Linked DNA regions of Homo sapiens: regions 2, 3, 4 and 5 are each linked to region 1. The links come from fine-mapping of genetic effects on gene expression. A gene starts in region 1. Each other region holds a variant in brackets. All regions are shown on one strand. Distances are between the middles of the regions.

Region 1 (5,100 bases):
CAGCTACTTGGGAGGCTGGGACAGGATAATTGCTTGAACCCGGGAGGCGGAGGCTGCAGTGAGCTGAGGTTGTGCCACTGCACTCCAGCCTGGGTGACAGAGCGAGACTCCCTCTCAAAAAAATTAAAAAGAAGACAGAATTGCATCTAAGATCCACTGCCCTGGATACACAAACTGAATCTAATGAAGATAAACCCAAACTAAGGGACATTCTACAAGGTAACTGGTCTGCTCTCTGCAAAACATCAAAGTTGCAAAAGACAAAGACTGATTAAGACCGATCCAGAATCCGCTGGCACGGTGGCTCACGCCTGTAATCCCAGCACTTTGGGAGGTCGAGGCGGGCAGATCACCTGACGTCAGGAGTTCGAGATCAGCCTGGCTAACATGGTGAAACCCTGTCTCTACTAAAAATACAAAAAGTAGCCGGGCATGGTGGCGCATGCCTGTAATCCCAGCTACTCGGGAGGCTGAGGCACGAGAATTGCTTGAACCTGGGAGGCGGAGGATGCAGTGAGTGGAGATTGTGCCATTGCACTCCAGCCTGGGTGACAGAGTAAGACTCCATCTCATAAAAAAAAAAAAAAGACTGATCCAGAATCAATATGGCAAAACCCTGTCTCTACCAAAAAATGCGAGCTGGGCATGGTGGCGCGCACCTGTATTCCCAGCTACTCAGGAGGCTGAGGCAGGAGAATCTCTTGAACCCAGGAGGCAGAGGTTGCAATGAGCCGAGATTGCACCACTGCACTCCAGTCTGGCGACAGAGTGAGATTCCGTGTCCAAAAAAAGAAAAAGAAAAAGAAAAAAGACTGATCCAGATTAAAGAAGGTTAAAGGCTATGACATTGATCCTTGACTGGATCCTAGACCTGAAAAAAGTTTTCACTGCAGAGGACAAGCAGGATAATCGGGGAAACCTCAGTAAAGTCTGTGGGTGGATAATGGTGTTTTGTCCATGTTAATTTCCTGATTTTGACACGTGTGTTGTGATTATGTAAGAGAATGCCTTGATTTTAAGAAATGCCCAACAACTAGTATTTAGAGGTAAAGAAACACGTCTTCAACTCACTCTCAAATAATTCAGAAAATATCCCCAGAAAGAGAGGTGTGGATGAAGGTGAGTGAAAGACTATTGGAGTGACTGGTACCGTTTTGACACCCAGTAGCCTTTCTGTAAATTTGAAATTTCAAAACTGAAAGTTACAAAGAAAAGGAGAAAAGTGACTAGGCACGGTAGCTCACGCTTGTAATCCTAGCACTGTGGGAGGCTGAGACCAGAGGGTTGCTTAAGCCGAGGAGTTCAAGATTAGCCTGGACAACATAGTGAAACCTCATCTCCACAAAAATTTTAAAAACTAGCCAGGCATGGTGGTGTGCGCCTGTAGCCCCAGCTACTCAAGGGGCTGAGGCAGGAGGATCACTTGGGCCTGGGAGGTCGAGGCTGCAGTGAACTATGATCGCACCACTGCACTCCAGACCTCATTTCAAAAAAACAGGCCAGGCACGGTGGCTCATGCCTGTAATCCCAGCACTTTGGGAGGCCCAGGTGGGTGGATCACTTGAGGTCAGGAGTTTGAGACCAGTCTGGCCAACATGGTGAAACCCTGTCTCTACTAAAAATACAAAAATTAGCCAGGCGTGGTGGTGGGCACCTGTAATCCCAACTACTCTGGAGGCTGAGGCAGGAGAACCAGTTGAACCTGGAAGGCGGAGGTTGCAGTGAGCTGAGATCGTGCCACTGCACTCTGGCCTGGGCAACAGATCAAGACTCTGTCTCAAAAAACAAAAAAATAACAAAAAAGAGAAAGGTCTTGGCACATAGGACTAAATGTTCCATACAAGCTTCAATTTCCTAAATGTAGTTCCTCCCTGGCCTTCCTATGGGATTAGGGGACCCAGTGGACTTGTGTGTCTGAGCAGGCATTTGTCCAGCCTCCTTGGGGACAGATGGGAGGACTCTATTGGCCCCTGTCATGGTGTCACCCTACTGGAGAGGATAAGACTCTAACTGACACTACAGGCAGCTGGGGAGAGAGAGAGCTTTAGTTTCCAGGCCTCCCTCTTGGGAGGGCCACTCTCTGATAGCTGGGCTAGTCAGGGAAGGCTTCCTGGAGGAGTGGGCCTCGGACCTGAGAGAGCGCTGGGCTGCCTGGCCATGGCAGGGGAGCAGAAAGAGGACTCCTGGCTAAGGCTGAGGGCCTGGCTGGGGACACAGGCGGGGACAGTAAAGGGCTGGGGCCCAGGGCGGGTCCAAGGGAACTGTCTTCCCAGGGATCAGAGGGGTAGATCCAGGCTCAAAGACCAGGGACCAGGTGCCCAAGACCCTGCCCCGTTAGTCCTCACTGGAGCTGGTTGGCCCTGGGACTGCAAGGGTGGCCGTGCTGTCCCTCCCGTATTCCCCCCACGGGATGCCCTCCACCAGCTACTCACATAGTGCTGGCTGGGTACGAAGCGCTTCTCAAAGCCCAGCAGGGCGATGTGACGGATGAAGGTGTCCCCCATGACTGGGTGGCCTCCAGTGCTCCCTGGCACTTCCAGGCTGCGCCTTAAATGCACTGGAAAGAGGAAGTCGCTTTTGTCGCGGTCGGGACAGGGGGCAGGGAGGGTACAGAAAGGGCTTTGCTTCTTCTTTCAGTTTCTGGGGACTCTTCAGGCTTGCAGGGTGTAAACATGGGCAGACTCATGTTCACACACACCTGCAGGGACAAGGAAAAGGGTTTACACTTGTCCTTCCCGTCGCCTGCACGGGCCCCACGGGTTTTGGGGGTGAATCAAGCTGCTCCTGCCTCAGGGCCTTTGCATTTGCTGCGTCCCCTTGACCATCTTTCCCCCCTTGACCATATTCCTGGTCTTGACCATGTTCCCCCCATTCACCATCTTCCCTCCATAACTCTCCTCCATTTCTCTGCTCAAATGTCACCTCTTCCGAGAAGCCTTCCTTGATAACTTCACATTGCATAGCAAACCTCATACCTTTCTCAGCCTCTTCCTGCCTCCTTTTTCTGCAGAGCACTTATCACTGATGCATCGCAAATTGCATTTAATTTTTCTTTATTATTATTGCTATTGTTATTTGAGACAGGGTCTTGCTTTGTTATCCAGGCTTAAGTGCAGTGGTGGGATCACAGTTCACTGCAGCCTCCAACTCCTGGGCTCCAGCGATCCTCCTGCCTCAGCCTCTGGAGTAGCTGGGACTACGGGTGTGTGCCACCATGCCCGGTTAAATTTTTTTTAATTTTTTTGTACAGACAGGGTCCTGCTATGTTGCCCAGGATGGTCTCAAACTACTGGCCTCTAGTGATCCTCCTGCCTCTGCCTCCCACTTTTTTTTTTTTGAGATGGAGTCTCGCTCTTGTTTCCCAGGCTGGAGTGCAATGGCGCGATCTCGGCTCACCGCAACCTCTGCCTCCTGGGTTCAAGCAATTCTCTTGCGTTAGTCTCCTGAGTAGCTGGGATTACAGGCATGTGCCACCACACCTGGTTAATTTTTTTTTTTTTTAATTAGAGACTGGGTTTCTCCATGTTGGCCAGGCTGGTCTTGAACTCCTGACCTCAGGTAATTCACTCGCCTCGGCCTCCCAAAGTGCTGGGATTCAGGCATGAGCCACCGTGCCTGGCCTGACTTAATTTTTTTAGTCTCCCCTTACCACAATGTGTGTCCCAGGAAAGCTAGGGCATGACCGGGTTATCAGGGGCTCTAGCCCCAGCCCCTCCATCTAGTGCCTGGCACACAGAGGCCATAAATATTTGGATCGTGACTGCAACATTCACTGAGTGAATGAATGAGTGAGTGAATGAATGAATGAGTCAATGAATGAGTGAATGAATGAATGAATGAGTGAATGAACGCGGGCATGGGAGTGTGCATGCAAGCGTTAGATGCTCATCCTTGGGTGTGTGTGGATGAGGGCCAGTGACAGCTGGGACGAAAATGGCACAGACTTTGAGTGAGACTTGAGTTCCAATCCTCAAGTAAGCAAATGGTTCATTGAATTGTTCCTTAGGGCTGACTCAGTTTTCTCCAGAGTGATATTAAGACTGTCAGCTTTGCCAGGAAGGGGATTTGGGACAAAGAGGTGAGGAGGGGGCAGCATGCCCAGGGACAGGCTGAGGCCTCTCTCTCCCACTCCCCCTAGAGCCTGGGAGGCCCAGAGCTTTTGGAGCTCATTCAAGGTCATGAGTTCATGAGTGGCGGGCCTCAGCCCCAGGCAGCCTGCTGCAGCCTGTGCCTCCCAGCAGGCCAGGGCTGCACCAACTCACCCTTGCCTGAGTCCAGGGTCAGCTCATGGTCCGGACCTGATCTCCTGGGGGTGAGGGTTGAGGTCTGGCAGATGAAAGCCAAGACATGCTGGGCGTTAATTTATTTGTTTGAAGCGAAGTTTCGCTCTTGTTGCCCAAGCTGGAGTGCAGTGGCACAATCTCGGCTCACTGCAACCTCTGCCTTCCAGGTTCAAGCGATTCTCCTGCCTCAGCTTCCCAAGTAGCTGGGATTACAGGTGTGCGCCACCACGCCTGGCTAATTTTGTATTTTTAGTAGAGAAGGGGTATCACCCTGTTGGCCAGGCTGGTCTTGAACTCCTGAGCTCAGGAGATCCACCCACCTCAGCCTCCCAAAGTGTTGGGATTACAGGCATGAGCCACTGTGCTTGGCCCTTTTTTTTTTTTTTTTTTTTTTAAAGACAGGGTCTCTATCTGTCACCCAGGCTGGAGTGCAGTTGCCTGGTCATAACTCACTGCAGCCTCCAACTCCTGGGCTCAAGCAGTCCTCCTGCCTTGGCCTCCCCAGTAGGTTGGGACTACAGGCACATGCCACCGCACCTGGCCTGTTCCTGCTTTTATTATCCAGTGCATTTATTATCCAAGAGGTGTAGGGTCCACTCCACCTGCTCTGAAAGATTTGCTTGGCAAGTGCTTCACTTCTTTTTTTCTTTTTTTTTTTTTTGAGACAGAGTCTCTTTCTGTCCCCCAGGCTGGTATGCAGTGGCATGATCTCGGCTCACTGCAACCTTCACCTTCCGGGTACAAGCAATTCTCCTGCCTCAGCCTCCCAAATAGCTGGGATTACAGGCGTGCACCACCATGTCCGGCTAATTTTTTG
Region 2 (5,103 bases), 360 kb before region 1:
GAGAGAGAAAAAATGCTGCATTTTTCTAACCTTCCATTGGTAATTCCATTTCTATTACTTCATTGCTTGTGGAAGAAGGGTGGCTTCCTGAAAGAAAAATAAATAATATATAACAAAGGAGAAATACAAAAATGTAAAAAGAAATCACTGAATACAATGCAAACAAGTCAATACCCACGCAGGAATACACCTGAAATACTTCTACCCCTTGAAATAAAACTGGCTGCGCGCGGTAACTCACGCCTGTAATCTCAGCACTCTGGGAGGTGGAGGCGGGCAGATCACCTGAGGTCAGGAGTTCGAGACCAGCCTGGCCAACATGGTGAGACCCCTTCTCTACAAAAAAATACAAAAATCAACCGAGTGTGGTGGCACATGCCTGTAATCTCAGCTATTCTTGAGGCCGAGCCAGGAGAATCACTTGAACCTGGGAGGTGAAGGTTGCAGTGAGCCATGATCACGCCACTGCATTCCAGCCTGGGCGACAGAGCGAGACTCTGTCTAAAAAAAAACAAACAAAAAAAACATAAACCAATTAATTTCTCTGAGTTTCTCACATTCTGGATTTTATTGACTACATCCTTGTGGTGATGTTTTCATATGTGCCTGTATTCCATGCATCTCCTAAAAACTGCTGGTTAGATCTAAAGGCTGGATCAGACTTAGGTCTGATTGTTTTGTTTTGTTTTGTTGTTGTTTTGAGAGAGAGTTTCACTCCAGCACCCAGGCTGGAGTGCAGTGGTGTGATCACAGCTCGCTGCAGCCTTGACCTCCCAGACTCAAGCGATCTTCCCACCTCAGCCTCCCAAGTAGCTGGGGCTACAGGTGTGTGCCACCATGCCCGGCTACTTTTTGTATTTTTTGTAGAGACGGCGTCTCACCATGTTGCCCAGGCTGGTTTTGAACTCCTGGGCTCAAGTCATACACCTGCCTTGGCCTCCCAAAGTGCTGGGATTACAGGTATGAGACACTACACCTGGCCAGGTTTGATTTTTTTTTTTTTTTTTGGAAGAATCCTTGACAAAGGTGGTGTGGTGTACTTCCTACTGGATACCGTCAGGAGACCAGTGACCAGTCAGTTCAGGAACTGTCAGTCAGGTCTGCCCATGATAAAGTCCCCATCAGACTTTTATAAAATGGTTTTAATGACCACTGACAATTATTGCCAAGATGCACTGCTTCATTAGGTGGTGCAAAATCATGACAGTCGTGACAATTTATGACTTCTTTTTAAAAGCCTTATGGGTCAGGTGTGGCGGCTCATGCCTGTAATCCCAGCATTTTGGGAGGCCAAGGTGAGTGGATCACCTGAGGTCAGGAGTTCGAGACCAGCCTGGCCAACATGGCGAAACCCCGTCTCTACTAATAATACAAAAAATTAGCCAGGCGTGGTGGCACACGCCTGTAATCCCACCTCCTTGGGAGGCTGAGGCACAAGAATCATTTGAACCCAGGAGGCAGAGTTTGCAGTAAGTGGAAATAGTGCCACTGAACTCCAGCTTGGGCAACAGAGTGAGATTCTGTCTCAAAAAAAAAAAAAGAGTATGTGGATTTAGCCCAGGCATGGTGGCTCACGCCTATAATCTCAGCACTTCTGGAGGCCAAGGCTGGAGGACTACTTAAGCCCAGGAGTTAGAGAACAGCTTGGGCAACAAGGTGAGACCTCATCTCTGTAAAAAAACAAACAAAAGAGTACATGGATTTAGGCTAAATAGAATCTATTTTATAACTGTAGGATTATTTACTCTAAATGGCAGCATGCTTGATCCTAGGTAAACACACATGGGTGCTCGCCAGTTTTTCAGACAGGTAGTAATTAAAATCTTCCATCCCAAATAACTTTTGGGGAAGAAAATTATTATCAAACAGTATTACCTTGCATATTATATTGATAGTAATTAGGATCTTCTGATTCTTTCTTGACTGAGACAGCTTCTGCTTTCAGTGAAATGCCTTGGAATGTAATGGAAATGATAAAATTGTATGTTAGGTTAAGTTTGCCAACAAAGAAATACGACTAGCTAATATAAGTTGATTAATACAGCAATGTTACAATCAGCAAAAGAACTTGTAGCTCACTCACTATGAACAAATTTGACCTCTTGATACAAAAATAGAAATACTATAAATTAAAATAATATACATATAGAAAACATACATTTGTGTATTTATGTATGTTTATATAAAAATAATATCAATTGTAAAATCAATAGAAAAGGAAAGAAGGAAGGAGGGGACCGGGCACGGTGACTCATGCCTCCAATACCAGTACTTTGGAAGGCTGAGGCGGGCAGATCACTTGAGGTCAGGAGTTTGAGACCAACCTGGCTAACATGGTGAAACCCTGTCTCTACTAAAACTACAAAAATTAGCTGGGAGTGGTGGCGGACGCCTGTAGCCAGCCACATGGGAGGCTGAGGCAGGAGAATTGCTTGAACCCAGGAGGTGGAGGTTGCAGTGAGCTGAGATCGAGCCACTGCACTCCAGCTGGTTGACAAAGCGAGACTCCATCTCAAAAAAAAAAAAAAAAAAAAAAAAAGAAGGAAGGAGAGGAGGATGAAGGAAGGCATCGTGAAGGCGGGAGAGCTTAGTTCTGATTCTAGTCCTAGTTTTGGGAGATTTTCCCCTTCAGGGTGGCTGAATATCCACGTGCATTTACATGAAATGCTGTGAAGATTCTTCTGTCATGAAGCCTGAACTGACATATATAACCATTTTTTTTTTTTTTTGAGACAGAGTCTCACTCTGTTGCCCAGGCTGGAGTGCAGTGGCATGATCTCGGCTCACTGCAACATCCACCTCCCAGGTTCAAGTGACCCTCCTGCCTCAGCCTCCCAAGTGGCCCACGCCACCATGCCTGGCTAATTTTTGTATTTTCAGTAAAGACGGGGTTTCACCATGTAGGCCGGGCTGGTCTCAAACTCCTGACCTCAGGTGATCCACCCACCCACCTTGGTCTCTCAAAGTGCTGGGATTACAGGCATAAGCCACCGTGCCCGGCTAGGCACTTATAATCTTAACTTACTCACTATAATGGAATGGATTTCAAAACCTGGAGAAGCTATATCAGTACAACCTAACGCCTTTATCAGAGAAGGGTGCGGTTGGCTGCAAAAATTAGCTCA[A/G]GACCTCTCCCATCCCAGGATGTACATCCCTTTGCAATGTGACTATCCCATGCTTCTTTTCTAGAAGTAAAGTCTGTTTCTCTGCCATTTTGTTATTATTTTTTGAGACAGAGTCTTGCTCTGTTGCCCAGTGGAGTGCAGTGGCATGATCATGGCTCACTGCAACCTCTGTCTCCTGGGCTCAAGCGATCCTCCTGTCTCAGCCTCCTGAGTAGCTGACTATAGGCATGCATCACCACGCCTGCCTAATTTTTGTATTTTTTGTAGACATGAGGTTTCACCATGTTACTCAGGCTGGTCTCGAACTCCTGGACTCAAGCAATTTGCCTGCCTTGGCCTCCCAAAATGTTGGGATTACAGCTGTAAACCACGGCGCCAGGCCATTCTCTGCCCTTTAAATCTGGCCCTGGCTGTGTGACTTGCTTTGGTCAATGGGACATCAGCCGATGGGATGCAAAGAGAGGCTTGAGAAGAGCTTGATCATCTGTGCCTGCTGCTTCTAGAACCTCATCACCATGGGAGCCAGCCTAGGGTGCCTCCAAAGGGTATGAGGCCACAAGGAGAGAGACCCTGATGTCCCAGCCGGGGCCTCAGACACACAGCCATCCGGCCCTTGCTGAGCCAGTCCAGCCAACACACAGAAATGTAGGAAAGACTAAATATTCCATTCCATTCCATTGGAGCCCTTCCCCTTCTCTTTCCAGCCCAGGCTGGAGTGCAATGGCATGATCTTGGCTCACTGCAGCCTCCACCTCCCAGGTTCAAGTGATTCTCCTGCCTCAGCCTCCCAAGTAGCTGGGACTACAGATGCGCACCACTACGCCTGGCTAATTTTTGTATGTTTAGTGGAGACAAGGTTTCACCACGTTGGCCAGGCTGGTCTCCAACTCCTGACCTCAGGTGATCCGCCTGCCTTGGCCTCCCAAAGTGCTGGGATTGCAGGCGTGAGCCACCACACCCAGCCTCATTTCAGGGGTACTTTTAAATACAGCAATAGATGACTGATACTAAAATGTACATGTAATTTAACCATGAATGTTTGTAATAGCAAAACAAAAAAACTGTGGCATAGCTTGGGGTTCATTGTTTAACATAATTTATAAGTTCTGAGGGGTCGTCTGAAAACCTTTAACAGCTCTGTTGGTATAAGGACAGTGAAGCTAAACATTTAAAAATCTGATTTTCAGCTGGGGACAGTGGCTCAGACCTGTAATCCCAGCACTTTGGGAGGCTAAGGTAGGCAGATCATTTAAGGTCAGGAGTTCGAGACTAGCCTGAACAACAGGGTGAAACCCCGTCTCTATTAAAAATACAAAAACCAGCCAGGTGTGGTGGTGGGCACCTGTAATCCCAGCTACTCAGAAGGCTGAAGCAGGAGAATCACTTGAACCCGGGGGGCGGAAGTTGCAGTGAGCTGAGATCACACCACTGTACTCCAGTCTGGGCGACAGCGAGACTCTGTCTCAAGAAAAGAAAAAAAAATTGGCCTGGTGCGGTGGCTCATGTCTGTAATCCTAGCACTTTGGGAGGCCGAGGAGGGTGGATTACCTGAGTTCAGGAGTTTGAGACCAGCCTGGGCAACACGGTGAAACCCTGCCTCTACTAAAATACAAAAAAATTAGCCAGGTGTGACGGCGTGCACCTATGATTCCAGCTACTCAGGAGGCTGAGACAGGAGAATCACTTGAACCTGGGAGGCAGAGGTTGCAGTGAGCTGAGGTCGTGCCACTGCACTCCAGCCTGGCAAGACAAGAAAGAAAGAAAGGAAGGAAGGAAGGAGAGAAAGAAAGAAAGAAGGAAAGAAAGAAAGAAGGAAAGAAAGAAAGAAAGAAAGAAAGAAAGAAAGAAAGAAAGAAAGAAAGAAAGAAAGAGAAAATAAATTAAAACCAGGGAGATGGTTTGTTTTTGTAGCAAATGCTACACACATATCACAAGAAATAAGGACCAATTGAGGACCAGCTCTCAGGAGCCTGCTGGC
Region 3 (5,103 bases), 170 kb after region 1:
AGCTCCGCCTCCCGGGTTCCCACCATTCTCCTGCCTCAGCCTCCCGAGTAGCTGGGACTACAGGCGCCTGCCACCACGCCCGGCTAATTTTTTGTATTTTTAGTAGAGACGGGGTTTCACCATGTTAGCCAGGATGGTCTCAATCTCCTGACCTCATGATCTGCCAGCCTTGGCCTCTCAAAGTGCTGGGATTACAGGCGTGAGCCACCGCGCCCGGCCCTCTGTTTTTCTTTTCAAATGTACCTCTGTTACTCTCTTTCAAACACATTAGGGAAACCGAAAGAGAAGCTCTGTCCAGCCCCAAGTTGCGGGGTTCGCCTGGGGCAGTGCTCAGCCGCCTGAGTCAGTCTGGCGGTCTCCTCTGAAGCCAAGCCTGGTGCTTCATCTTTTCTAGTTGTGTAACCCTGGACTCAGCCCTTCATCTTTCTGAACCTCAGATTCTTCATTTGTGAAATGAAGAAATAATATTTACTTTGCAGGGCTGTGAGGATTAACAGAGCACATAAAAGTTCTTGCGTAATGGGCCGGGCATGGTGGCTCATGCCTGTAATCCCAGCACTTTGGGAGGCTGAGGTGGGCGGATCCCTTGAGGTCAGGAGTTCAAGACCAGCCTGGCCAACATGGTGAAACACTGTCTCTACTAAAAATACAAAAATTAGCCGGGCGTGGTGGCGGGTGCCTGTAATCCCAGCTACTCGGGAGGCTGAGGCAGGAGAATCGCTTGAACCTGGGAGGTGGAGGTTGCAGTGAGCTGAGATTGTGCCACTGTACTCCAGCCTGGGTGATAGAGCAAGACACCGTCTCAAAAAATAAATAAATAAATAAATAAATAAATAAATAAATATAGGATTTCTATGGAGTTCCAATTTATGACCAGAAATAGAGAAAGCAAATTCTACTGATGGAGGCACAAGTCATAGTTCCCCTACAGATGGATTCTGGGGCTGAGGTTGGGGGAAGGAGGTTACTGGAATCACTGGAGCAGGAGGATTTAAAGAGTTAAGGCAGGCCGGGCGTGGTGGCTCTTGCCTGTAATCACAGCACTTTGGGAGGCTGAGGCAGGCAGATCACCTGAGGTCAGGAGTTCGAGACCAGCCTGACCAACATGGAGAAACCCCATCTCTACTAAAAAATACAAAATTAGCCGGGCGTGGTGGCACATACCTGTAATCCCAGCTACTCGGGAGGCTGAGGCGGGAGAATCACTTGAACCTGGGAGGTGGAGGTTGCTGTGAGCCAAGATTGCACCATTGCACTCCAGCCTGGGCAACAAGAGTGAAACTCCGTCTCAAAAAAAAAAAAAAAGAGTTAAGGCAGCTGGGTGCAGTGGCATGTGCCTGTAATTCTAGTGCTTTGGGAGGCTGTGGAAGGAGGATCACTTCAGTCTGGGAATTGGAGGCTGCAGTGAGCTAGGAGCGCGCCACTGCACTCCAGCTGGGTGACAGAGTGAGACCCTGTCTCAAAAAAAAAAAAAAAAAAAAAGATTTAAGGGCCCTCTTATTTTCCAGGAGACCGGTGTAGTTTATATTCTTTCACCAACTCGCTCACATTTAGTGAGTACCTTGTATGTCCTGGACGTAGGCGCTAGGATAGAACGGTGGATAAAATGGACACAGTCCTTGACATCATAAAGCATAAAGCAGGCAGAGAAGCAGAAAATAATGACAGAAAAAATAAGTTATTGTAGGCTGGGTGCAGTGGCTCACGCCTGTAATCCCAGCACTTTGGATGGCTGAGACGGGTGGATCACTTGAGGTCAGGAGTTCAAGACCAGCCTGGCCAACATGGTGAAACACTGTCTCTACTAAAAATACAAAAATTAGCCAGGCGTGGTGGCGCAAGCCTGTTATCCCAGCTGCTTAGGGGTCTGACGCAGGAGAATCACTTGACCCTGGGAGACGGAGGTTGCAGTGAGCCAAGATCCCGATACTGCACTCCAGCCTGGGTGACAGAATAGACTCCACCTCAAAAAAAAAAAAAAAAAAAAAAAAAAAAAGAACGAATGATACTTGATATTAATAAAATGATATTTATTTACTTGAGATAGGGTCTTGCTCTGTCGCCCAGGCTGGAGTACAGTGGCACAATTATAGCTCACTGCAGCCTTGAATCCCTGGGCTCAGGTGAGCCTCCCACCTTGGTCTCCTTAGTAGCTGGTACTACAGGTGCCCACCATCATGCCCAGCCATGAGTTTTAGGAAGATGATGAAATTTAAAAATTACAGGGCAGTGGCCAAGTGCAATGGCTCACACCTGTAATCCCAGCATTTTGTGAGTCCCAAGTGAGAGGATCCCTTGAGGCCAGGAGTTTAAGACCAGCCTGGGCAACATAGTGAACTTCTGTCTTTACAATAAGAAAAATTAGCTGGGCATGGTGGCATGTGCCTGAAGTCCCAGCCAGTTGGGAGGCGAGGCGGGGGGATCACTTGAGCCCAGGAGTTCCAGGCTTCAGTGAGCTATGATCGAGCCACTGCATTCCAGCC[T/C]GGGCCACACAAAGAGACCTTGTCTCTTTTTTTTTTTTTTTTGAGATGCAGTATTGCTCTCTCACCCAGGCTGGAGTGCAGTGGCACGATCTCAGCTCACTGCAAGCTCCGCCTCCTGGGTTCACACCATTCTCCTGCCTCAGCCTCCCGAGTAGCTGGGACTACAGGTGCCCGGCTAATTTTTTGTATGTTTTTTAGTAGAGACGGGGTTTTACCATGCTAGCCAGTATGGTCTTGATCTCCTGACCTTGTGATCCACCCACCTCGGCCTCCCAAGGTGCTGGGATTACAGGTGTGAGCCACCGCACCCGGCCTTTTTTTTTTTTTTGAGATGGAGTTTTGCTCTGTTGCCCAGGCTGGCGTGTGCAGCGGTGCGATCTCCACTCACTGCAACCTCCACCTTCTGGTTTCAAGCGATTCTCCTGCCTCAGCCTCCCGAGTAGCTGGGATTACAGGCATCCGTCACCACGCCCAGCTAATTTTTGTATTTTTTAGTAGAGACGGGGTTTCACTATGTTGGCCAGGCTGGTCTTGAACTCTTGACCTCGTGATCCGCCCGCCTCAGCCTCCCAAAGTGCTGGGATTACAGGTGTGAGCCATCTCGACCGGCCGAGACCCTGTCTTTTAGAAAAAAAAAAAGTAATAATTAATAATGAAGATAAATAACGCTTTGGTTCCTTAAAAAGAGGTACCTCGCAGGGCCGTTGGAAGCACCAGCCAGGAGAGCTCAGGACCAACCCTCCCCTGAGTGCACCAAGCCAGGCACCTGGGCGGTGCGGGAGGGTGGCCCGAGGGGAGCAGGTGCCCCGTCTCGTTTTGTGGCCCGTCCCTGCGCCAATTATTGCTTTATTACTGTTTTCAGTCAGATATAATTCCAGCATTTTCTATAATCTTGATCTTTTCATTGATACCAGATTTTTGTACAATGATTTGTATATAAAATGACTGTGTACCCACCAGAATACATTCCCCGGCAATTAGAACGTTTAAGATGCAGCTCCTAACCGTCCTTCATTTATTACTTTTGAAAGTGTTTTGTGATTTTTTTGGGGATGTGTTTACAAATCCAATAACAATTCTCATTTAGAGTTGCAAAACACGAAGCCATTTCGAACCGAGACAGATGGCAGCTAAATGAAGTTTAATTAAAGAATGAGTGCTTTGAATCAAATCACTTTTTAAAAAGTACAGTACACTGAGATTCTGGAGAGGTTGCATAAACAGCATCTGGGCGCTTCTGCGAGGAAAAGAGTCAGTAAGGCTTTCCCATCGGATAAGGGGCTGGGCGGGCGCAGGGTGGGCGAAGGGAAAAGCGGCCCTTTGCACAAGACCTCTGTCCTCTGCCTGGACACACCTCCCAAAGCCCAGGCCTCCAGGGACTGGGGGAAACTCACAGGAGGCAACCTCTTGCTTCAAACGCTTTGGCTTGGAGCAGGGGAAGGGGGTGGGAGAGGGGTCCCCACTTCTGCCCTTTCTTTAAGACATAGGGTCTCGCTGTGTTGCCCAGGCTGGAGTGCAGCGGCTCAATCCTCTGCTTTTAGGGAAGCGGGAGGATACGAGGGTTTGCTGCACCGACCCACTTAATTGCACGCCATCTGCACAGTGAGCCTGAAAGAGAACAGATTGGGAGCTTCGCGGGCCTTTGCGCGGATGAAGGAGGATCGGGTTCCCCGGCCCGCCCTACCCCCGGGCTCTGCGCCCTCTCCATGCACGGGATGGCAGTGCCCGCGGGCACAGTCTCAGCCCCGCCGCTCCCGGCCGGGGCAGGAGCCACTTCCGGCTCTGGCCGCGGATCTGAGCGGTGGAGCGGGGGCGGCGGGTCTAGACGACCGACAGGCGCCAGCGGGCGGTGGCGGGCGGGAGGGGGCGCCAGGTGGGCCGGGCCCGGGGGACGGAACGGTGGGACAGAAGGCTGGGGACCCGACCCCCTGCGAGGCGCCTGGAACGCCGCACCTAGATGCTTGCACTGGGTGCAAGGAAAGCAAAACAGATTTTAAATCCAGAGTCACAGGATCGGGGGTGGGGGATGGGTTACAGGACGTGAGGGTTGAAGGCAAGGTGGCAGCTGCAAGGACTCTTCAGATCATCTTGACTTCATAGGCAGTTTCTGCTTGGAGGTGGTGGCCAGTTGAGGAGGTCACTCCTGCCCCCATCCTGGAGTGGAAAAAGTGGGCCCGGCCCAGGGCAGGGGCTGAGGGTGGAGTGGAGGCGCCTGGTGGCACTGGGAGCCACTAGGAGGTGGGAGGGAGGAAGGTGAGGCTGGCAGCTGACTGGGTGGGGGGTTTGCACCAGCGGAGAGGGGGTGGCTGTGCCAGGCACGTGGTTTCTAGCGTCTTTCCAGGAGGAAGTGTGGTCTGGAAGGCTGGGATGGGGCCTTCCTCCCAGCTCTGGGCATGGATGGGACTGACCCTGAGGACTGGCAGAAGCCCTGGACTAAAGTTTTGACCATTTCCTCAGCTGATTCAGAACTCAGTCCCTCCAAGCCACAGGCCTCATTCTGGGCCCTGGGTGGACGGTTAGAGCCAGATCCTGGGACCACCCTGACCCCTGACTCTCCAGAACCCCTCGTCCACCCGACTGGCTGACCCTCTAGTTATTTTCTCCACCTGGCCCAAACCAC
Region 4 (5,103 bases), 690 kb before region 1:
CCCAGACTGGAGTGCAATGGTGCGATCTTGGCTCACTGCAACCTCTGTCTCCTGGGTTCAAGCAATTCTCCTGTCTCAGCCTCTCGAGTAGCTGGGATTACAGGTGCCCGCCACCATGCCTGGCTAATTTTTGTATACTTTTCAGCTTCAGACTTTGATTCCTTTCAATAATTTCTATTTTTTTCCTTTCTTTTTTTCTCTAAGCTTTAGTTTGTCTATAATAAATTCTTTTATTGAGACAGGGTCTCACTCTGTCACCCAGGCTGGAGTGCAGTGGTGCAATCTTGGCTCACTGCAGCCTTGACTTCTCATGCTCAGGCAATTCTCCCACCTCAGCCTCCCAAGTGGCTGGGACTACAGGCGCATGCCACCACACTTGGCTGATTGTTTGCATTTTTTGTAGAGAGGGGGTTTCGCCATGTTGCTGAGGCTGGTCTTCAAATCCTGGCCCCAGGTGATCTGCCCGCCTCAGCCTCCCAAAGTGCTGGAATTACAGGCATGAGCCACTGCCCCTCACCTGTCTATAATATTTTCTATTTCTTTATTGATGTTCTGCATTTGTTGAGACATTGTTCTCCTTGTATCCTTTAACTCTTTATTCATCGTTTCTTTTAGCTTTTTGAGCAGATTTCAGACAGCTGATTTAAAGTCTTTGTCTAGTACTTTCAATGTCTGTGCTTCCTTAAAGACAATTTGTTTCTTTTGTGAATGGGCTGTACTCTCTTAATGTCACTGCATGGTTTGTAATTTTTTTTTGAAAATTGGAGTCAGGCACAGTGACTCACACCTCTAATCCCTTTTCCCCAAAAAAAGAAAAAGTAAAATTAAAAAGAAAAAAAGAGTCCAGGCGTGGTGCCTCACGCCTGTAATCCCAGCACTTTTGGGAGGCCGAGGTGGGCAGATTGCCTGAGGTCAGAAGTTCAGGACCAGTCTGGCCAACATGGTGAAATCCCATCTCTACTAAAAATCCAAAAACAGTCAGACATGGTAGCATGCCCCTATAATCCCAGCTACTCAGGAGGTTGAGGCAGGGGAATTGCTTGAACCAGGGAGGTGGAGGTTGCAGTGAGCCGAGATCGCACCACTGCCCTCCAGTCTGGATGACAGAGCTAAGACTCCGTCTCAAAAAAGGAAATCAGACATTTTGAGTATTATAATGGGGTAACTGGAAATTATTTTATCCTCCCCACCACCCCTGGGTTTGCTTTTGCTGTGGGCTGTAGCTGTTTGTTCAGTGACTTTCTAAACATTTTTGCAAAGTGTGTCTTCTTTTACATGTGCGGTCTCTGAAAGTCTCTCTGCCGTTAGCTTGTGTTCAACTAGTGTTTTAACAGAGATTTCCTTGAATGCCAGATGCCAAAGGTAAAAAAAAAAAAAAAAAAAAGAAAAACCCAGCTCTTTCCATCTTTGTGGATTGCCACTGTGCTGGGGCACTGGAGCAGTCCTTCAGGGCTTAGCCAGTCTGTGTACAACTTTTTATTTATTTTTTTGAGGTGGAGTCTTGCCCTGTCGCCTAGGCTGAAGTACAATGGCACGATCTTGGCTCACTGCAGCCTCTGCCTCCCAGGTTCAAGTGATTCTCTGCCTGAGCATCCTGAGTAGCAGGGATTACAGGCTTGTGTCACCACACCTGGCTAATTTTCCACCACACCCGGCTTACTTTTGTATTTTTTAGTAGAGACGGGGTTTCACTATGTTGGCCAGGCTGGTCTCAAACTCCTGGCCTCAAGTGATCTACCCGCCTCAGCCTCCCAAAGTGCTGGGATTACAGGCGTGAGCCACCGCACCCGGCCCAGTCTGTGTACAGCTTTGCCCTAGGCTTTACTCCCTGCCTGCAGGGAGGATGGAGAGGAGCCACAGATGAAAGCTCAGCATCCTTTCTCAGGTCTATTCTGAGAATGTGCTCTGCACTCAGCATGTGCATGGCTACTGAAATTCCATAGTACACAAGGGCAGGTCTGAATTTCAGTACCCAAATTTCCCATAGAAACTCTCCACAGCTTCTTCTCCCATGCTGTCAGCACACCTATAGTTTGCCTCAACTGTAATCTTTTGCCTAGGCATCAGCAGGGTATGCATTTGATTTACAGTGTTTTCAAGGAATACCCTCTGTGTAGCCACTTTTCTGCCCTGTGTGAGTTCTGGGTTAGGTGAAACAAAGGCAGCTGCCCTGTATCAGTTCTTTTGGCAGCCCTCAGGCAGCTGAGAACGGGAAAACAAAATGCTTTGAGAATAAGGTCTGCTCTGCTGCCTTCAATACCAGAAACCACACTGGGAATGTGGGCTGCCATCTTCAAGGTTCCCACTGAACCATGGAAGGTTGTGGGGCAAGGGCAAGTAAAATAACCCAGTTTTCCTACCATTTTGAAGTTGCTTTTTTCTTGATTCAGTGTTCATTTGGAGTATTAGTCAGTTTTCACACTGCTGGAAAGAACTGCCTGAGCCTGGGTAATTTATAAAGAAAGGAGGTTTAATTGACTCACAGTTCCACTTGGCTGGGGAGGCCTCAGGAGACTTACAATCATGGTGGAAAGCTAACAAGAAGCAAGTACCCTCTTCACTGGCTGGCAGGAGAGAGGGGAGAGTGCAGGGGAAACTGCCACTTAAAAACCATCAGATCTCGTGAGAACTCCCTCACTATCACGAGAACAGCATAGGGCAAACCGCGCCCGTGATCCAGTCACCTTCCACCAGGTCC[C/G]TCCTTGACCCCTGGGGATTACAATTCAGGATGAGATGTGCTTGGGGACAAAGAGCCACATCAGATGATCTGGTTATTGTAAACCTTTGATTATTTTTCTACAGTTCTCATGAAGTTGATTCAGACAGTTTTGCTTGGTTTATCAATGTTTCTGTGGGGGGATGGGGACTTGGAGATACCTACTCTGCCATTTTTGCTGATACCAGTCAACATGTTATATTTTCACTTTTACATAATTCAATATGTTTTCCAGTTTCCCTTGCGACTCACTCTTTGACCCATGAATTATTTAGAAGTGTATTTAATTTCCATGTGTTTAGAGATTTTCTGGTTTCTTTTTAAAATTGATTTAGTTTAATTATTTTACAGTCACAGAACGTATTTTGTATGATTTCAGTTATTTTACATTTCTTAAGATTTGTTTTGGCCGGGCATGGTGGCTCACACCTGTAATCCCATCACTTTGGGAGGCCGAGGCAGGTAGATCACCTGAGGTCAGGAGTTTGAGACCAGCCTGGCCAACATGGCAAAACCCTGTCTGAAAAACACAAAAATTAGCCAGGCGTGGTGGTGCATGCCTGTAATCCCAGCTACTTGGAAGCTGAGGCAGGAAAATTGCTTGAACCCAGGAGGCGGAGGTTGCAGTAAGCCGATTGCACCTCTGCACTCCAGCCTGGGCGACAGAAAGAGACTCCATCTCAGAAAAACATTTGTTTTATGACCCAGGTTCTGGTAAATCTTGCTGAATCTTCCATGGGCAAAGAATGTGTACCCTGCTGTTAGTGTGTGAAGTCTCCTGTAAATGTCAGTTAGGTTCCATTGGTCGATGATGGTGTTCAGTTATTGTATTGTTTGCTGATTTTCTTTGCTGTTTTTTTCCTGTGAATGGTCTAAGCTTCCTATTTCCTGTTTCTTTGTATATTTTGTGGTTTTTTGTTGAGAACGTTGCATTTTAAGTGTTACAATGTAATGACCCTCAAAATGTGATTCTCTCAGTCACCTGGGATTGCTGGGTTTTGCTTGTTGAGGTCTGAAGCTCCCCTTTTGTTACTTTTCCAAACTATTTTTGCAAAGTGTTTCTTCCTTGTGCTTGTGTGGTCACTGAAATTTGTTTCATTATCTCTGCAGTCAGCCAGCCACCTAACATGGATTTCCTTAAATAGATGGCTTTAAATGGGGTGGGGCAGAGGAGGATTTTGTCTCTTTGATAAAATCTTCTGAAGGATGTCCCTGGGGAAGCCACTGTTGCTGAGAGGGCCAAATAAACCAAGGCAAGCATCCGGGCTGGTCCTCAGAGACCCATTGGACCCACCAAGGTGCAGAACCCATGGTTTTGGAGGACAGAGTTCCGCTGCTCGCCCTGGCATCAGCCAGCTGCTTCGGGAACTCAGGCTCAGGAATGGGGGAGTGTTGGCTGGTTGGCACATGCCACTCACTCGTGAAGATCAGCAGCCTCTCTCTTCATTGTTTAAGTATGTCTCTGGTTGTTAGGAGTTCCTGGTCATGTTTCAGAATTCCAAAAGAGCTGATTCCAATCACTCTTTCTAGCTCAGTGGTTGCTTTAGTGAAGGGACTGATCTCTACACTACAGCTTCCTACTCTGCCATCTTATGTGACTATTGATATTTATTTATTTATTGAGACAGAGTCTTACTCTGTTGGCTGGAGTGCAGTGGTGCAGTCACGGCCCACTGCAGCCTTGACCTCCTGGGCTTGAGTGATTCTCTCACCTCAGCCTCCCGAGTAGCTGGGACTATAGGTATGTGCCACCATGCCTGGCTAATCTTTTTTTTTCTTATTCTTTTTGTGGAGATGGGGTCTCGCTATCATGCCCAGGCTGGTCTCAAACTCCTGAGCTCAAGTGATTCCCTCCGCCTCGGCCCCCTAATGTGCTGGGATTATAGGCATAAGCTACCACACTTGGCCATGAGTCATTTTTAAAAAAACAGATTCCAACAACCTTTTTGATTGCTGTGTTTAGAAGATTTATATTTAATTTTGGACGGGTTTTTATTATCTATTTTCTACTTGTTCCCTCTGGGTTTTTTTATACCTGTTTCCCTTTTCTTGCCTTTTTATGGGGTACTTAGACATTTCTTAGTATGCCATTTAACTTCATATGCCATGCTAAATCAATTCAGTATGCCATTTAGTATATATTTTTGTATAGGATTTTATAGGTGGCTGTAGAGATTATATTATACATACTTATGATCATTGGCTAGTATCAACCTTTTGCCAATTCAAGTGGAATGTAGAAACTCTACTGCTTTCTAGGCCCCTCTGCCCTTCTTTATGGTATTGTTGTCTTGAATATCACCTCTACATTCATTGAGAACCACTGAGATAATGTTATGGTTTTGCTTTTGCCCATCAAATATAATTTTTAAACTCGAGATTATATT
Region 5 (5,103 bases), 280 kb before region 1:
GATCTTGGCTTAACTGGAACCTCCACCTCCTAGGTTCAAGTGATTCTTGTGCCTCAGCCTTCTGAGTAGCTGAGATTACAGGCATGTACCATTATGCCCTAATAATTTTTTTGTAATTTTTTTTTTTTTTTTTAAGTAGAGACAGGGTTTCGCCATGTTGACCAGGCTGATCTCGAACTCCTGACCTCAAGTGATCTGCCCATCTCAGCCTCTGAAAGTGGTGGGATTACAGGCGTGAGCCACTGCACCCAGCCCCAGACTGGGATTTCTGAGCTGATACTTGTTAAGTGCTTAAAACTGCACTTGGCATATAGTAAGTCTGCCTATGTGTTTGTTAAAAGAGCGAATAATTAAAAATCTGTATTTTCCACTGTGTTAGGTCTGGGTCACTACAATATCACCAGCTCGCCCACCAAGCTGGGTGGAGACCTGGCGGGAGTGAACGTTATCCAAGTTGCCACCTACGGTGATTGCTGCCTGGCCGTGTCCGCCGACGGAGGACTTTTTGGTTGGGGAAACTCGGAGTACCTGCAGCTGGCCTCTGTCACTGACTCCACACAGGTATGCAGTCGCCGACAGCGTGGTGCTGGGAGGTTTGGAAACATTAAAGTGTTAAGGGGCCGGGTGTGGTGGCTCACACCTGTAATCCCAGCACTTTGGAAGGCCGAGACAGGCAGATGGCTTGAGGTCAGGAGTTCAGGACCAGCCTGGGCAACATGGCAAAACCCCATCTCTACCAAAAAAATACAAAAATTAGCCAGGTGTGGTGGTGCATGCCTGTAATCCCAGGTACTGGGGAGGCTGAGGCATGAGAATTGAATCGCTTGCAGATTGCAGTGAGCTGAGATCGTGCCACCACATTCCAGCCTGGGTGACAGAGCAAGACTCTGTCTCGAAAAAAAAGAGCAAATAGGCTGGGCGTGGTGGCTCACGCCTGTAATCCCAGCGCTTTGGGAGGCCAAGGCAGGCAGATCACCTGAGGTCAGGAGTTCGAGACCAGCCTGGCCAACCTGGTGAAACCCCGTCTCTACTAAAAAAAAATACAAAAATACCACCTCCACCTCCTGGGTACAAGCAATTCTCCTGGCTCAGCCCCCCGAGTAGCTGGGACTACAGGCACTTGCCACCACGCCCAGCTAACTTTTGTATTTTTAATAGAGACAGGGTTTCACCATGTTGGCCAGGCTGGTCTCGAACTCCTGACCTCAAGTGATCCACCTGCCTCCGCCTCCCAGAGTGCTAGGATTACAGGCGTGAGCCACCACACCCGGCCACAAATGTCATTTTATGTTAATTTTGGTTGACATCTGCCTCGTCCACTAGACTAGAACTCTCTGAGGGTGGAAACTGGGCCTCTTTTGCTTCCCATTCTACCCCAGCACCTAGTATGATGCTTGGCATGTGATGTTCAGGAAGTATCTGTGGAGTGAATGAATGAACTAGGACTCAGCTACTCTGTACCTAAGACCAGAACACTTCCCGGTCCTTACTGGCTTGCTTTCCTAACAGTGTGGCTCCTTTCTTTGGTTCAGGTGAATGTGCCCCGCTGCTTACACTTCTCAGGAGTGGGGAAGGTGCGACAGGCTGCATGCGGTGGCACGGGCTGTGCAGTGTTAAACGGTGAGACCTTCTTTCCGGTGGCTCATTGGGAAGCTGTAGGTAGATTACATAGGGAGTGGTCAGTGTCCATTGGATTTGCAGGCCGTAGACCTTAGCCTTAGGAGGGTAACATGGCTGGGCGCGGTGGCTCACATCTGTAATCCCAGCACTTTGGGGAACTGATGCAGGAGGATTGCTTGAGGCCAGGAGTTCCAGACCAGCCTGGACAACATAACGAGACCCTGTCTCTACCAAAAAATGGAGAAATTAGCTGGAAGGCTGGGTGTGGTGGCTCACACCTGTAATCTCAGCACTTTGGGAGGCCAAGGCAGGCAGATCACCTGAGGTCAGGAGTTCAAGACCAGCCTGGCCAACGTGGTGAAACCCTGACTCTACTAAAAATAGAAAAATTAGCCAGACATGGTGGTACATGCTTGTAATCCTAGTACTTGGAAGGCTAAGGTGGGAGGATTGCTTGGACCCAGGAGGCAGAGGTTGTAGTGAGCCGAGATTGCGCCACTGCACTCCAGCCTGGATGACTCTGTCTCAATAGAAAAAGAAAAAATGAAAAATTAGCTGGGCATGGTGGTGCACACCTGTAGTCCCAGCTACTCAGAAGGCTGA[G/A]GCAGAAAGGTCCCTTGAGCCCAGGAGTTCGAGCTGCAGTGAGCTATGATCATGCCACTGCACTGGGCAACACGGTGAGACCCTGTTTCAAAAAAGGAAGGGACTATGGCCATGGGAAGATGGCATTGGATTAGAAGATGGCATTACAGGGTGTGAATGAAGTTCTTAACAAAAAGCGAATAGTCTGCGATTTATCTGTAGATACATGGCCACAGAGCTGAGTCATCCTAGAGCAAACCTCTGGAGTGGAGAGCGAACTACTTCATTCCCCTCCCTTAGCCTGGGCCAGAGAGACTCCAGCTCTGCCTTCTCCAGCCAAAAAATCAAAGGCAGATGGGAGAACAGCCTTCAGCTTTGGATAACGATGAAATATCTGGCACCACTGATGAATATTAAACTTTCTATAACCAAAACATCATTTCTAAGAGTTTTAAGAATCTGGCCAGACATTGTTGATGTGTTTGGCCTTCTGATCAGTGTGAAACACAGAGCTGTCATTAGGGGGAGAAAACATCCTCCAATTCTCTGGTATTCGTATGGGTTTTCTGGATGATTTATACGCTCGTCCCTTCCAGGTTACTAACCCTCAAGATGTGGGAAGTTTGTGTTCTGAGCCAGGAGAGCTGGCGAGACAGACTCCCCCAGCAAGAATTTAAGCAGGGGAGAGAGAATTATTATTCTAAATCTCTGTCTGCATGTTCTTGCCAAGCAAGGAGGAAAAAAACAAAACAAAAAAAAAACAAAAAAAAACCGTGTGGATGTCATAAACCTTGGTGGTGTAGTTTGAGTTTCTGGTGAGGGAGGTTCTTACTTGGATGGACTTACTGACCCTTGTTTTTACTGTAATGTAGGAGAAGGACATGTTTTTGTCTGGGGCTATGGAATTCTTGGGAAAGGTCCAAACCTAGTGGAAAGTGCCGTCCCTGAAATGATTCCACCCACTCTCTTTGGCTTGACGGAGTTCAACCCAGAAATCCAGGTTTCCCGCATCCGATGTGGACTCAGCCACTTTGCTGCACTGACCAGTAAGTTACCAAGCCCGGTGGCCCTGGTGTGAGCCCAGCAGAGGTTCTCTGTCTCCAGTTCAACCCCAAACTGCGGGCAGCTCTCAGGTTCCACCCATCCAACAGAACGGCGCCTTTGTACTGATAACTCAAGCAAGGGCTAAGCCAGAAGTTGTTTGCCTCGAGGTTGTATAATGTCTTGTTTTCCCCCCCTGGAGTTTTAATTTTGGTTCGTTTGGTTTGTGGGTAGGCTAACGTGAACGTGCATTTTCTCAAGAGAGCACCCGTCGGTGGTAGGAAGGGGCATTGCTAGTACGTCGGGTGCTGGAGGAAACCAGCAGAGGCTTGGCGGATCCATGGGTGGGTGATTAGGAAGTGAATGTGTGGGGCTTAATCCCATTCCCTGGCCGAGCCCAGACCCTGATCTGACCCAGGATATGGGATGGCAAAAGGCCGATTTGTCAGACTGTCCCGTGGTTTCACGGAGGTAAATCTACCGATTTCTCCAAAGTGCCGGGGTAGAGAATGATGAAAGGGGAGAGCAAAATGGAGGTTTTTCCCAAAGGCCTGCCAGATTACAAAGCCACAGAATATCCGCTTACCCTGCAGGGTAAGGGTAAGGAATGTGTCCTTTTCTTGGTTACATCTCTTACTCCACCACAGTTACCGTGGGTTCAATTTGCTGCTCTTTAGTTGACTCGAATAGTAAAACTGTCCTGAATTAATTTCATTCTGTGATTCTCAAGTAAATTAGTTATTTCCTTGCAATTAAAAGAATCTTTTCATCTCATGGCAAGTAATTGTTTTCTTTTTAAACATCCAGGCCGGGACAGTCAGTTGGTGTCATCTTTGGTTGAGTTCTCTGGCCTCATTCCCACGTGGGGCCTGTCCCAGATGCTCACCCTCTGTACCAGGGTCCTAACTGCTATTCACTTATTGTCTGAATTCCAGGCTCCAGAGGCCGTCAAACAGGCAGGCCTGGGTTGTTATGGCTGCCAGCTGGAGTTTTATCTGGCTCTAGGCTGAAGCACTGAAGTGGCAGTGGTCATGACTAAGCCAGAGAATTCCTGGCCACTGCCCAGCCAGAGTGGCCACTTGCATTTGCAGCTGAGTGTAGGTCTCATGAATTCTTTTTTTTTGAGTTGGAGTCTCACTCTTGTTGCCCAGGCTGGAGTGCAATGGCGCGATCTTGGCTCACTGCAACCTCCGCCTCCCGAGTTCAAACGATTCTCCTGCCTCAGCCTCCCAAGTAGCTGGGATTACAGGCACACACCACCACGCCCGGCTAATTCAGTGTCATGAATTCTTAAAGCTATTTTGATTTGATAAATAAGAGTCGTATGGACTAATTTTGGGGGAAACAAATATCTACTTTCCAGAAAGTTCTTAAGGCCTCAACTATGGGCAGAGACACATGTTTAGAAATCTGTGTGAAGCATTTGACTAGAGCAGAGGCTTTTCTATTTGCCCTCATGCCATGTAGCCATTTCAGGTCACAGCGAAATGAAATTCCTTTCTGGATTTCTCCCCGAGACTTAACAGGCCTCCTTCTAAGGGTGAGTTACTGCCTGTTGGTAGACAGAGCCTAGCTGTCTTCCTGCCTGTGTGCCTGGCATTTGCAGATAGCCATCTGGGAATTAGAGTTGGTTGGTTTATCCTGTGGTCTGCTAGCATTTTGGGGAGCCAGGCCGAATTGTTCTATTAAACACCTAAGGGCTAGCTGGGTGCAGTGGCTCATGCTTGTAATCCCAGCACTTTGGGAGGCCAAGATGAGAGGATCCCTCAAAGCCCAGGAGTTCGAGACTAGCCTAGGCAACATAGTGAGATCCCTTTTCTACAAAAAATACAGAAATTAGCTGGGTGTGGTGGTGTGCGC

Direction of the effects. Positions count from the first base shown, and alleles are read on the strand shown. Sizes are in standard deviations (SD) of each study's normalised expression. Not every link is listed here.
For the expression in spleen of the gene that starts at base 2,525 in region 1, G is the high allele of the variant in region 2 and A is the other (large effect, 1.2 SD a copy in GTEx).

What was found. PIP is the estimated chance that this variant, and not a neighbour inherited with it, causes the effect.
Region 2: its variant is the best candidate, but not a certain one, in a credible set for the expression of NCF1 in spleen (GTEx, PIP 0.66).
Region 3: its variant is the best candidate, but not a certain one, in a credible set for the expression of NCF1 in whole blood (INTERVAL, PIP 0.52).
Region 4: its variant is the best candidate, but not a certain one, in a credible set for the expression of NCF1 in whole blood (INTERVAL, PIP 0.80).
Region 5: its variant is the best candidate, but not a certain one, in a credible set for the expression of NCF1 in whole blood (TOPMed, PIP 0.58).

What each region holds. Positions count from the first base shown.
Region 1 is chr7:74,771,436-74,776,535 of GRCh38, reverse strand. It overlaps NCF1 (neutrophil cytosolic factor 1), which reads right to left and starts at 2,525. Exons shown (of 11, transcript NM_000265.7): 1 at 2,433-2,525. The coding sequence starts at 2,504. RefSeq lists an enhancer at 3,699-4,244.
Region 2 is chr7:75,129,985-75,135,087 of GRCh38, reverse strand. It overlaps GTF2IRD2B (GTF2I repeat domain containing 2B), which reads right to left. Exons shown (of 16, transcript NM_001003795.3): 9 at 1,876-1,953; 10 at 31-87. Among named protein-coding and RNA genes, the nearest start is that of GTF2IRD2B, 40 kb to the right of the region's middle. The variant A/G (reference allele first, on the strand shown) is at 3,126.
Region 3 is chr7:74,605,806-74,610,908 of GRCh38, reverse strand. No RefSeq gene overlaps it. Among named protein-coding and RNA genes, the nearest start is that of MIR10525, 12 kb to the right of the region's middle. RefSeq lists a silencer at 4,002-4,411. The variant T/C (reference allele first, on the strand shown) is at 2,484.
Region 4 is chr7:75,459,731-75,464,833 of GRCh38, reverse strand. All of the region lies in intron 3 of POM121C (POM121 transmembrane nucleoporin C), which reads left to right. Among named protein-coding and RNA genes, the nearest start is that of POM121C, 24 kb to the left of the region's middle. The variant C/G (reference allele first, on the strand shown) is at 2,699.
Region 5 is chr7:75,054,046-75,059,148 of GRCh38, reverse strand. RCC1L (RCC1 like) reads left to right here. Exons shown (of 11, transcript NM_030798.5): 7 at 380-561; 8 at 1,533-1,620; 9 at 3,075-3,248. Among named protein-coding and RNA genes, the nearest start is that of RCC1L, 17 kb to the left of the region's middle. The variant G/A (reference allele first, on the strand shown) is at 2,224.